Linked DNA regions of Homo sapiens: regions 2 and 3 are each linked to region 1. The links come from fine-mapping of genetic effects on gene expression. A gene starts in region 1. Each other region holds a variant in brackets. All regions are shown on one strand. Distances are between the middles of the regions.

Region 1 (4,241 bases):
CTTTTCTAACTGAAATACACTTCACTTTATTTTATAGGACAAAAGAGAATGATTAACACATTAGATGAGATTAGTTCAAGGCATTCCTTGAACACACTCCAAGTACTCCTGTAGCCCTTCACCTTCACTCCATCCTGTTACTGAGGACAGCTCTCCTATTGGGTGACCTACAAAGCTAACTTACAAAGAAGTCCAGGGTATCTGTATATACCTTACTAACAAGGACGTCATGAGAACATTAAAGAACCATTGCTACAGGGTAGGTGCTAAACAATTACAGAATACTGATAACCCTGCATGGATTTGGCTTGTTCTACCCACCACCTGTTTTCAACAAGGCATTCCCAGGCCTCACAGAAGGCCGAGTAGGCACACATTACCACTACGGGACAGGCTTGCCTCTGGGACACACTTCTTAGTGGCAAAACTGTCACCAGATTTCTGGATTCAGCCCCAAGCTAGGGAGTCTTTAGGGTGTGCGGGTCCATCTAATCTGAGGCAAGTATTTCCAACTCCCATTCCTGGACACCGCCCTGGAGGACTCATACAGCCAGTTCACAGTTGTGGCCACTTGCACTGGTGACCAGACTATCTTTGTTCAACCTTCATTCTTCTGTGGCATTCATATTTTATTCAGAAATAAGTTTCCAAATTACTCTCCAGAGTACCTATAAAAGCAGACTTTGCAATAGTTCCAGGAATCAATGTAGAACAAAAGCAATGCTTTCAACTTTTGAATTTCCTGCTTATCCCTAAAATCAACAGCTGGGCAGCCAAAAAGTTGGGGGTGGAGGAGTGGGGCCTAGAAAGATCAGGTCGGGGCTCTATATGGGGAGTTCTGTGCACCCAGAAAACCTCAAGCCAATCTTAGGAGTTAATCAGAAGGTGGATGGCTGGGAAGTCAAAGCTCTGATGTTTTACAAGTCTTTGATGAGAGTGAATAATGTTCCCATCATTGCTAGGGATGAATCAGAAAAGAGCTTGGCCTAAAAATAGCCAGGGACTTCCTTAGGGATTGAGAGGAGGTAAAAGCAAGGTGGGCGAAGTCTCAACCTTCGAGACAAGAACTTTGAAATTATTTTCTTTCAATTGAGCAGGGCAAGTTCACCTCCCCCGCGCCGACCCCCTAACCCGCCCGCCCCATCTCTACGCCAGCCCTACCCCTTCTCCCCTTCTGACCGCTTTCTCTCCTCTGTGCTCTCCCCTATCTCTCTTCCGGCAGAATCCAATGGCCAGGCTGGGAGAAGGCAGAAAGTGCTTGGCGGATGGTAGGCATGGAAGAAGGCTGGGGGCTGCGGCGAGGTGGGTGGAGGGGAGGGAGAGAAGTGGCAAGGCAGTGAAGGTAAGAGGAGGACAGAAGAGATTCTGAGAGAAGGAGGATACTCAATTTGTCATTCTCATTCTCCCTACTGGAAAAAAGAAAAACTGAATTAAAAGTTACATAACTTTAAAAAACTACTTCCATCTCCGGAATACCTCTCTGAAGACAGCAGCGGCCACACCTCACCACTAGGATTCCTAAAGCGCCTCGGGGGTCAGAGGGGTTGGAGGACCCCAGGGGCTGGGGAGGGGACTGCTCGGGCCGAAAGGTGTCGCGGTGACTCGGCTCCATTCAGAGCACTCGAGCGCGCCCCACCCTCGCTCGGCGCCGTCGACGCCCCGCCTGACTGGAAACCCGAAACTCGCGGGTGCCAGGCCCGGGTCCTACTACTGTCCCGCCGCCGGCAAGTTAGGGCCAGCGCCAAGGGGACCTTACCTCGGCCGGGGGGACCTCCTCGTCCAAAGAAGGGAAGACCTTGTCGGCACCATTGAGAGGCGTGTTCTCTTCTGGCTGCCGCTCGAGCACCGAGAGCTCCAGCTCGTCTACTGGCTGTGAGGGTTGGGCCAGGTCCATGTGCCGGCAGGGAAAGTCTGAGCGGCTCCGCGGGAGGCCACAGCGCCGGCGAGTCGAGCGACCTCCCCGCCTCACACTCCACCCACTGGGCGGGGCGTCGCGGACCTCGGGCGGCGGGAGCGGACCGGAGCGGACAGGAGGGGCAACTGTGAGTGGCGGCCACTCCCTGGATCCCGCGGGGTAGAGCACCTGAGGCCGTGCCGGAGTGGGCTCCAGAGCCGAAGGCTGTTTTTCTGATTTGTTCAGGGCGCTGCCTGCTATGCCTTTCCCCGCGCCTGCAGATGCAGACCATCTCCGTTTAGGGGCTGCCTGGGTGCCGGGCTGTGGTAAGGAAAGGGTGGGCCCGGCAGCACCGTCCAACGGAGAAAAGTTTGCGATCTAACCCTACGAACTGTTGGTTGTTGGGGTTTGCCACAGTCCTCGCGGCCTAGCAAAAGTGCATTCATTCAATCAACAAATAACCATGCCTCGTGCCAGCATGGTGCTAGGTTCTGAGTGCATGAAGGTGAATAATATACACCAACACACTTCCTCGCAAGTCCAGAGTCAGGCACAGAGACAGTATTGTGTGGTGCTGGGGACAGCGGACTCTAAAACCAGTGTACCTGGGTTATTCTCCACCCAGAGGGTTCCTCACTGTGAGACCTCGGTCTTCATCTCTCTGTGCCAACGTCCTCATCTGGAAAGTTGGTGTAATATTTGTACCCTCCTAAATGTAGTTGTTACCAGGATTACAAGGGTTGTTGTAAGCAAAGCACTCAGAACAGTGATTGACACAGCAAGCACTCATAAATGACCATTATTATTTATCTTTGAGAGGAGGGGCCTTACACACACACACACACACACACACACACAATGCACGCGCACACACAATCTCCTTGACACCCTATCTGTAGTTCAGAACTTCCGGTTTAGTTAGCATGGAATTATGTTTGTTAAGCACAGCATGGGTTGGGCCAAGGGCCTCAACTCTCAAGCTTCTGTTCCGAATAGTCTTGCTCCTTACTTCTCACCCTCCACGCAACACACACACACACACACACACACACACACACATTAAGACCAGACCATTAACAAGAAGCATATAAATCAGCTCCACTCCAAATATGTTGACTTGAGTCCAAAAGTCTGGCATCTTCAGTACCTGATGTTGAGACACAGCCTAGATATCCTGTCTCCAGCAGTCTGATGCCTGCTACCAGATCCCCTGAACTTTGGATCCATCTGCCTGCTAAGGGGAGTCTGCAGTGACTCATCTGCTGACCTGCACTGACTTCTGCTCCAACAGGTGGATCTTGCAAGAATCAGGCTGCATTCTCAGCTGGGATTTTTGAACAGGTTTTTTAACCAAGGAGCAAGGGTTAAGGGAATCAACAAGGCATGGTGACGTACCCAGGGACTAGCAATAGCGAGAAGCTGTTAACACTCCTAGGCCTAAAAGGGACTGGAGACTGATAAAGAACTAGAGCCATTGAAGGGTGTGGGAATTTGCAGGGAGGTCTTGATAGGATCTGTAGTCACGAAAACATGCAGACCTGACTGGAAGCACTGACACCTCTCAAACTTCTGATTCTCCCCACCCCCATCCTTACCCAGGGTCCAGAAAACTTTTCTCATAGTTCCCTTATTTGATTGCAGAAGTTCATCCTAAATGTGAGATTTTTTTCTCACTTCAGATGGATAGTAGCTATCTCCATGCCTGATTTCTCCATGCACAGATACCTAAAGCCTCCCTCACTCCCCCAGAGAATCAAAAAGCAACTGTTCCTGTCTCAAGCACACCCTAAACCACATCTTCTAATGCCTTTTGAGTACTGTTAAGCAAGGTTTATATACTCTGTAATTAGATTTAAATGCATTTCTATAATTCCATATGCCTAACCCTTGTTCTCATGTTACAGTGGAAGGAATATAAGTTCTGAAGGCAGACAGAACTAGGATCAAATTTAGACTCTCACTATCTGTGTGTTCTTGGGCAAGCTGTTCAATGTCTGCTTGTTTTCTTATAAAATGATTCCTACCTAGCAGAGTCAGGAAGATTAAGGTAAAGAATTTATTCCTGTGCCTGAAAAATGAAAGGATCTCAGTAAATGCTCCATTACATTCCCTGACTGTGTCTTTGTGGCTAATACCCACTCTCCCCCGACCCTTAGCACCCAGCACTAACCCTTGATTCAATATGTTTTCTTTTGATATTGGTTTTTCTTCCTGTGCTGTCCTATTTTCCTGATCACTGACACTTGCTGACACCTCCCATATTACCTGAACTAAATTCTTATTTGCAACCTGTTCCTGTTCCTGTTAACTGCAAATTTCTTAATCTCCAGACAGCTGACCTAGAATG
Region 2 (4,241 bases), 42 kb before region 1:
CTAAAGAATTCTCTCTAAGGAAAGGAATAATTAAAATATGGAACTAATGTTCCAGGATCCAAGAATCCTAAGGGCTGACAAGGTCAGTTTTTCTGTGGCCTGTAAAGTTATCTGTGCTTTTCACATGGTTTCAGGAGGAGATTTTGAAAGAGGAGCAATTAAAAAACAAGCACTGTTGTTATTTTCTAACACCAATGCCCGCGTTAGGGGCTGGAGACCCAGAGATTCCTTTCAACAGGGTGAATTTTTTCAGTTCAAGTTGAGAATTACATATTTTCAGGGGTATCATTGGGCATATTTTAAGGCATACAGTTCAAATGATGAAATAAATCAGAAGGGCCACGGCATTATAACAAGGGAGAGGTTGGGTAGACCAGAGAGCCAGAGAAGGCATTGTGAAAGAGACAGATACCTCAAATTCCTGACACGTAGCCTAAGGGTATAGAGATTTGTCTAGCTTGCTTCTTGGAGGCTATCTGAACCCATCCCAAACCAAAACCACCATGTTGAAATGCAAGAATAAACTGCAGAAAAGTCAAGTAGGAGAAACAGCCAGCTTACAGATCGTTTTTGCCCATATTTAACCTCAGCTTATTCTTATAACTCCATGTGTAAGCAGTATATACATCCTCTTTTATAGATTTAAAAACTGTGGCCTCAGGAGTTCAGAGAATATCTCTCAAAATCATCCCCCTCCTCTTATCTCATTCATTTCTCCTCAGTGAATCTGGTTTGTTAACTTGGTGTGATTCAGTAGTTTTCTTACGATGTTTCCTTAGCAACAAAGCAGATAATGTAAGCAAACGGTCTGAAGCACATTGAAGGTAACCTAAAGAAGAGGAAGAGCTGCAGCTGTGCCTCTGGGCCCCAAAGGCTTTGATGATGCATAGATCTTAGAGGTTGTCAGAATGCTCAGCCAAGCAGGTGATCACAGCCAAGGTCACGATGCAGTCAGCCTCTCCTCCACTGCTCCTCCTGATGAAACTTCATGGGAAAGCTCACGGGGGGAGATATTTTTGGATGGTGTTTTCCAAACATTTTTACATACTGTAACTGATACTACTTTATAAAGGGCTTTCACATTCAACCATGTAGGTAGTTGACTATGCCTCAAATTCAGAAAAATGTACAGAATGATACTTATACATTAATGTAGATGCAGGACTGCAGAGAGATTCTAAGCCTTTGTGCTATAAGAGAGAGAAGTCCTGTTATTTAACTATATCGTTGGAGTCAAGGTGGTAGATTTGCTGACCTCCTGCACCAGGGTTGTCCTGTCCTTGGCTATTCATTCTGTATTCATATCTTCATCAAATATTTTTTGAAAACCCATTTACTGTGTGCCAGATGTTGTGTCATAGACTGGAAATACATACCACGATGAACAAGATCAATATGGTCCCCAGCTTTGTGAAGCTCACATTCTAGTGTAGAATATAGACAAGTGAGCAAACAATTGCAATATACTGTAAATTGGAGAAATTCAGAATATAGTAAAATACTGATATTGCCTAACCCATACCTGAAAAAAATGATTTGTAAAATTTCCATACACTTGTACCTTGATTTCCTGGGGATAACACTTACGTGTTCTTCATTACAAGGGAACCAAGGAAATTACCAGAATTGAGAGTGAGGAAACATTTTTCCTTTGCTGGGAACACAGCAGAAAGCTTTTTTCCTGATTAGGAATTTGATAGTATCATCTTCATCCTAGGAAGACAAAGGCATTCTACCATGAGAGATGTGTCCAAGTTATCTAGAATGAAACACGCTTGCGGGGAGAAAAAAAGTTTTCCACAGAAATGGCAAAAGGAAAGGAGTCACCTTAACAAAGCTGCAGAAATCAACCTTATGATTTGCCATCTCTCTTGGGTATTTTAGATGCTGGGATCACCATATCGCTGAAGGGTGTTTCTGCCTTCCATGGTGAGTGGACAGTTGTTTTTAGGAGTTATTTCCCTAAGTGTGGTTTCAATGTGGTATTTGCTGTAAGTTACCTGTGACTGTCTGTGGCCACAGTGGAAGCCTGTCAGTAGCCCAGATACAATCACCTAAGAGTTAATCAGGGAAGCAATCCTTCCAATTTGATGAGAAACAGGAACAATAGTCTCATGGGTCGCATGCTCTCCTCAAACAGGAAAGCCTCAGAAGCAAAGATGAAACTAGCTACTAACGTAGAAAACATACGTTTTTTTCACACTGCAAATCTGAGTCTGCATGTTCCGAAGCACACATTTCTATCCCTTGCACATAGAACTTATAGTCGGGGTGATAGTATAATTTATCATCTGAACTAAGATACCTTTGAGAGTGAAAGGGATGCTAAAAATAGTTAAAGCTCGCTAAGTGATTGATAATGACCTTCACCAGACTGAGGCAAACCAGGACATAGGGTTACCCTCACAGCAGATGTTCTTGTCTACTGAAACGATAGTGGG[C/T]TTCCATTATATTTATATCACATTTTTTCAGGGAGTCTTTTTACAGTGTTCCCTTATGCGAAGAGTGTGTTTATTTGTTTGTTTGTTTTGGAGATCATAGATTAGAATTGAGATTGAAAATAATCCTGGCTCCTTCACTCACATGATAGAAAAGAAATTGATACTTTGTCAGAAAAAAAGTCTCCAAAAAAGTAACCTCTATCACCATATTTCCCCATCTATAAATCAATTCCCTATCAGATTTAGAAAAGAAAGAGAGGAGGAGAGAGAGAAAGAGGCACAAAGGAATATATTTCTATTTGGCCTCATCTTTTACTTTTTTCTTTTTTACTTAACTCATCTATGCTGAAGGAGGTATTATAAAAGGTATATAACTTTAACAAAGAGTTAAAAGTAAGTTTTGTAGGCTTGTGTCATTTCCTTTGAGAGTTTCTGAATATTAAAACAATTTGCTTTGCTTTTCTTTTACAGGAAAAAAATACTCATTTTTGAAAAGAGGCAAGATTCCCAAAACGAAAGTAAGTCATTGATTTCCTAGTATTTTCACTTTTGATAAGACTTACATTTCCAAACTACTTCTTCTCTATGTTCCCAAAGCCCCTTAGGCATATTTCAATTACAATATCTACACATTTTGCTTTACTGTATCCAATTGCATGTCCTTTGTCCTCAGTAGATGGTGAGCTCATTGAAGCAGGAATTGGCTCATTAATCTCCAAATTCCTCAGTTAGTGCCTGAGGCCTGGAGGCTGAAGGCAGTAACTGGGGGCAAGGATACAAAAGGTGGAGGAGAAAGGCACTTACAAGAAACTGCAAGAAAGCCAGCCTGGGATAGGGGAGGGGTGGGGCCTCCTGGCCAAGTTAAAGATTTTCATCTTTGTCCTGACAGCTGCAGGAGATACTGGCTTTACACAGTGGGGAGGCGGGGGCAAGTATGATTAGATTTGTATTAAAGATATCACCCAGGTTCCTGTGCAGAAAACAAATTGCAGCAAGGAGCCGGAAGAGCAGATACCAGAAGAACACTTACGAGGCTGGTGCAGTAGTCTCTGGTGATAGAATAGCACTGAAGTTAAGGAGAAAGAATTCTAGAAGGAGAGTGTGATGAATTGTATCACACCTAAAAATAAAAATAAGAAAGTGTAGGCCTGAGGACAAGCCATTGTGTTTCTGAAGAAGAAAAATGGAAGAGTTTTGACTTTTCCTTCCTTAAAGAGGAGAACCTAATTCATTTACATAGAATCTTAAAATCTAGCCCTGCAAGATGTGTAAATGAATAATACAGCCTCCCACCCTAGCCACTTCACTCCAGGAGTCGTGGGTCCCAGGGAACCTCAATTTCCATCAGAGCAAAACGTAATAGAAATAAGACCAGATGCTAAAACTCTATGCTGAAGATGCTTTTCTTATAATGATAATCAGGGAAGTTTTAGATGCCTATAGGAGCTTATGGAGATGTGGAAATCCAGGATGTGAGGACCGAGAGAATGTCAATCCATATACCATATGGTAGCTTCCTCTGTAGACTTTCATGTGAGGGCACATGTTTGTTTATGGAATTGGTGTGTTTGCAAGAGGGTAGCAAGGGTGTCAGTTTGCCTCTTTGCTGAATGGCCAGAGCCATTTGGTTTTAACTAGGCTTTGAAAAATCGCCCTGCTCATTTGTTATCTGCCAGCAGGTATAGGAATGGGAATATTTAGCTTAAGAGTTTCCTGCTCTGCAAAACTCCTTGAACACCAATTATCACACCACCACCATCCCGTCACCTAGAGTAGAAACGACGGCCCTCTGCTCCACAG
Region 3 (4,241 bases), 75 kb after region 1:
TCTCGGCGGAAATGCAGCACTTGCAAAAACCAGGGACAGAAGGCTTTGAGAAAGAGGAGAAGGTCAGAAGGTGACTAACTATTTCTTTTTCGTAGAGACCATGGTGTGGAACATTCGTCCTCTCTACCAGGGGCAGGATGCCGCGTCCTACATGATCTGCCTGGGCATCCCGTACCCTGTCATGCCCGCCTGGGAGGCTCCCTTGTTGCTGCCCATCTGCAGGCCTATTACGTTCTGTCCCTGGCGAAGCTGCTCCTCGGAAAAGCCTCTCCGATTCTGCTGGGCTTTCCTGGACAAGGAAAGTGAGAGGGAATAATGTCATTATGACAGTTTTCCAATCCTTTTCAAGATATGCAATTAGACAGGCTCTGCTGGGGGTCCCCAAATAGATCAGCAGGTCCTACCCTGAGCTGTGGTTATGAGCTATGGCCCTACTCTGAGCTATGGCCCTACCCTGCACTGTGGACCTACCCTGAGCCGTGGCGCTACTCTGAGCTATCTCTGGCCCTAGCCTGAGCTGTGGCCCTACCATGATGCATGAGCTCCCTATCTTTTAGAAGCCCAGGTGTTTTCCAGAATTCCAGCAAAGAGTAGGGCAGAATCAGTGGCTACCTCTCTGGGGAATTCACTCTCAGCTTTTCTTGTTTCTCTTTCTCCCCACTCTCCCTTCTTCCCCCACCACTTTAGGCCATCTCAGACTTCTAAGAAGAAGCCTGCTTCTTCTTACCCTTTCTCTCACAGCTACGTCAAGCCTTTGTGAAAATTAAAATTGGTTCTTCTTACAAAGCACATCATTAATCCCATTCCCCCTTTCCCTGTATAGGGCCAAGATGAATATACCCTTTTAGAGCCAAGGGACCTAAGAGTTAATGAGGGGAAATGTCGCACTCTAGATTAGAGGTCTGCAAACTTTGGTAAAGAGCCAGATAGTACATAATTGTGGTTGTGTAGCCACATGGGAACACGGTAGTTCACTAATAATACAGACACTAAAACCAGGGTTTCAAATGGCCAACCTCTCAGAAGTTTTCAGGGCGAGTGTTCTTTAAAATGACATAAGCTGGTAACTTTTTTTTTTTTAATAACTGTCAAGGAGAAGAAAAGGGGATGCTGGAAATGAATAATCAATTATTTGCCACAGGGCACTCTTCTACAACTAAATTACCCAGTTTAAGCTTCCTGCCTACCCTACCCCCTGAAAAAAAAATCATTTTAAAAAAAGACCCTTTACTGAGAGATAACCATATAATTTGTCATCCGGACTAGGACGCTGTTGAGAGTGAAAGAGAGTTCTATTAATAGATATACTGGGACAACATAGATATTAACCATGACTGTTCCAAACAAACATGACATATTTACCCTTTATTAAGTACACAAACAAAAAAGAAGGAAGGAAGGAGGGAGGGAGGGAGGGAAGGAGGAAGGAAGGAAGGAAGGAAGGGAGGGAGGGAGGGAGGGAGGGAGGGAGGGAGGGAAGCAGCCAGGCAGGCAAGAAAGCTCAGAGCTGGCTTAAGTCATAATAAAGCCAAGTTCAGACATGAAGCCACCTTCAAGAAAGGCCATCCAGTCCTGCTGAGCCTCAGGAGAAACAGAACCTGGGTGGAGCTGGGAGGTATCTGGTAGAAAAGGCCCAACCATTTCTGCTCTGGTTAGGTTACTGGCCTGTACAGAAGCATCAGTCTTTCATTGCTTTGGGGAACTCAGTTGTGGAGACAGCAGTGCTTGGTCCTGGGGCTTTGCACATAAAGCCTCTGTAGAGTTCCAAGGCTTCAGACCCTCCCTCTGGTTAAAATCGCCTTGTGGTCCAGGGGGCAAGGAAGAGGCTTTTACCTGTGAAACCAGGATGGCTCTCCCCGATAGCAGCCATCATCCTTGGTGACTGCAACGCTGCCTAAAGCCATCAGGGTCCTCTGCACAGCTGCCATGTCCTTCCCTGGAAGCCAACAAAGAG[C/A]TTAAAGCCAAGCACGTGTCAGAGCCAAGGAATGCTGGAAGGATACGGCTGGACACCCAGGAGGGAAGTTCTGATAGAAGGCTGCAGGTGACCAGATTCAAGGGAGCAGTGCTATCAAACACCTCCCAAAGTGGCCCTAAGACAACCATACCCAAACTTCTCAGAAAGGAACAAAAAGTAACCTGGTTAATTATTCTCTATATGGTACATACCAGAGATACCAAGTTTCTAATCCGTTCATAGTTGCTGTATAAATAAAATCATCCATGTGCATCAAATTGAGTATTCACTTTGCTCTTTGGGCCAGAGGCCTGGCAAATGAAGAACAGCAAATCAACACAGAAAGCACTCAATGTGACACAAGTGATAGGGCCTTTATTTTGTGCCGCTTGAAAACAGCTAAATGGAGACAATAAACAACTGGCTTGTGTGTGACAGAGAGGAGAGCAAGGGAGAGGGATGTGCAGTGTGGCCCCTGCACAGTGGGATGGGGAGCCCTGTTACCTAAGCAGCCCAGTGACCATTAACCCATGGAGAAAGCAACTGGGCCTTACAACTCAGCCTTTCCTCCCATTCTTTCTCCTTTCTTCTCTTCCAGTTGACTGACCTGTCCTAAACTGAGAAGATGCTACTGAGGGGGTGGCCTGCAATTTAGAATCAGACCAAAAGTCCATGCAAGGCACCAGTGTGGAATACAAAAGCTAAAAAGCATAGGGTTAAAAGGGAAGGCAGCATCTAACCTGGCGGGGAACTGTGAAAGTTAAGGGCAAATATTAAGGCTCTCTTTAGACCTGGTGAACCGTCTGCAGTTTTTTGGCCCAGCTGCTGCAGCTCAGTCTCTGGGGAATACAGAATTACAGGGGAAAGGCAGATGGAAAGTGAGAATGGAGTATGAACTGTAATAAAATAAACAATTAAGGCCTTCAGAGGAAGTCCAGCTCAGGATCTTCATTTATTCGAAGAGGAGAGACAGAAAGCTGATCCTCTCTCCCCTCTACCCCCACCTCCCATGTTAACCACAGGGTGATTGCCTGAATCCTGAGGCCCTGTGGGACTGGTTGGTGAATACAAGGATAAAATGCTGTCAATGGATAGTCCCCCAGACTCAAGGAATAACTGGGGTGGTGGAGAATGAAGTATTTCAGAAGCAGACAGAAGGGAGAAGGCATAAGGAATATTCAGAACTAAGAAGAAACACAGAAGTTGTTGTTAGAATGACTCTTCCACAGGTGAAAGCATTTCTGTAATTGTCACCATATAATGGGACACTTTTTAAAAAATATAAATGTAGTAATGATATTCTGAAGGTTCATTCTGTGAAGAGATAGGGAGAGGACTTGCTCTTAGGCAGTGAACTATTAAAGGGAACCTAGAGAAATAAATGAGCAAAGGAAGGCTTAGGTTAGGGTATATCACTCATCTCTACTGTTTACAAAGAGCACCCTGGATACTTGTTTCTGGTGGTTGGAAAGAGCTATTCTGATATGTCCAGGATCTGGGAAAATGTGGGGCCTGACATCCAGCAGATCACCCACAGACACTACCCTGGAGCAACGGATGAAGAAGCAAAGTTTTATTAAACTATAGAACTAGACTCCTTCAAAGTAGCTAGTTCATCCCTGGTATCCCTGCATCTAGAAAATTCCCAACACTTAGTTCCCTACTTAGTTCCCTTTGTCCTTTCTGGGTTCATGTAGTAGTCTATATAACACTTCTTATATATAAGACTATATATAAGAACTTATAAGAACTAACACTTATATGTAAGTGTTATATATAACACTTCTTATATAGACTACTACATGAACCCAGAGAGGACAAAGGGAACTAAGTTGCCGGCTAAGATAAGATATCCAGGAGCCTAGAACTATCAACACAACTCCACCCTCATCCCAGGAGAGTGGAAAAGGAAGTGATTACACTTGAGAAAGAAGCCACTAGGGAAGCGGGCATTATTTGACAGGAAGAAATTGGAATTTTTTCCTTAAGAAACTTTCCAAAGCAAGATATTTGATGTAAATTATAGGGTAGACACTGTATATGTCATCTCAACCTCATGGAATTGGGATTATTCCTCCTCATGTGTGGACGAGAAAACTATTTCAAAGAGGTTAATTAACATGCCCAGAGTCACCCAATCAGTTAACAGAGCCCAGCTCTAGATCAGACCTGTCTGAATGTAAAGCCCTTGAACAATCCACCATGCCACTCTGCCATCTCCCATGGCACCCCATTGCAGGCTGGATGAGGAGCACATTCCTCAGTAGGAACCAGCGATCAGGGATGA

Direction of the effects. Alleles are on the strand shown, and positions count from the first base shown. SD is a standard deviation of normalised expression in the study named. Not every link is listed here.
In carriers of allele A in region 3, the expression in fetal neocortex of the gene that starts at base 1,913 in region 1 tends to be lower than with C alone (large effect, 0.75 SD a copy in Walker 2019).

What was found. PIP is the estimated chance that this variant, and not a neighbour inherited with it, causes the effect.
Region 2: its variant is the best candidate, but not a certain one, in a credible set for the expression of C3orf52 in lung (TOPMed, PIP 0.69).
Region 3: its variant is the best candidate, but not a certain one, in a credible set for the expression of C3orf52 in fetal neocortex (Walker 2019, PIP 0.50).

Annotation. Positions count from the first base shown.
Region 1 is chr3:112,084,061-112,088,301 of GRCh38, reverse strand. C3orf52 (chromosome 3 open reading frame 52) reads right to left here and starts at 1,913. Exons shown (of 6, transcript NM_024616.3): 1 at 1,757-1,913. The coding sequence starts at 1,894. RefSeq lists silencers at 1,999-2,048, 2,069-2,118, 2,169-2,218 and an enhancer at 1,735-2,251.
Region 2 is chr3:112,125,705-112,129,945 of GRCh38, reverse strand. It overlaps GCSAM (germinal center associated signaling and motility), which reads left to right. Exons shown (of 6, transcript NM_152785.5): 3 at 1,885-1,929; 4 at 2,913-2,959. It also overlaps a transcript of C3orf52 not described here. Among named protein-coding and RNA genes, the nearest start is that of GCSAM, 5.4 kb to the left of the region's middle. RefSeq lists an enhancer at 2,805-3,438. The variant C/T (reference allele first, on the strand shown) is at 2,442.
Region 3 is chr3:112,009,458-112,013,698 of GRCh38, reverse strand. It overlaps TAGLN3 (transgelin 3), which reads right to left. Exons shown (of 5, transcript NM_001008272.2): 4 at 1,834-1,936; 5 at 1-289. The coding sequence ends at 148. Among named protein-coding and RNA genes, the nearest start is that of TAGLN3, 13 kb to the right of the region's middle. The variant C/A (reference allele first, on the strand shown) is at 1,955.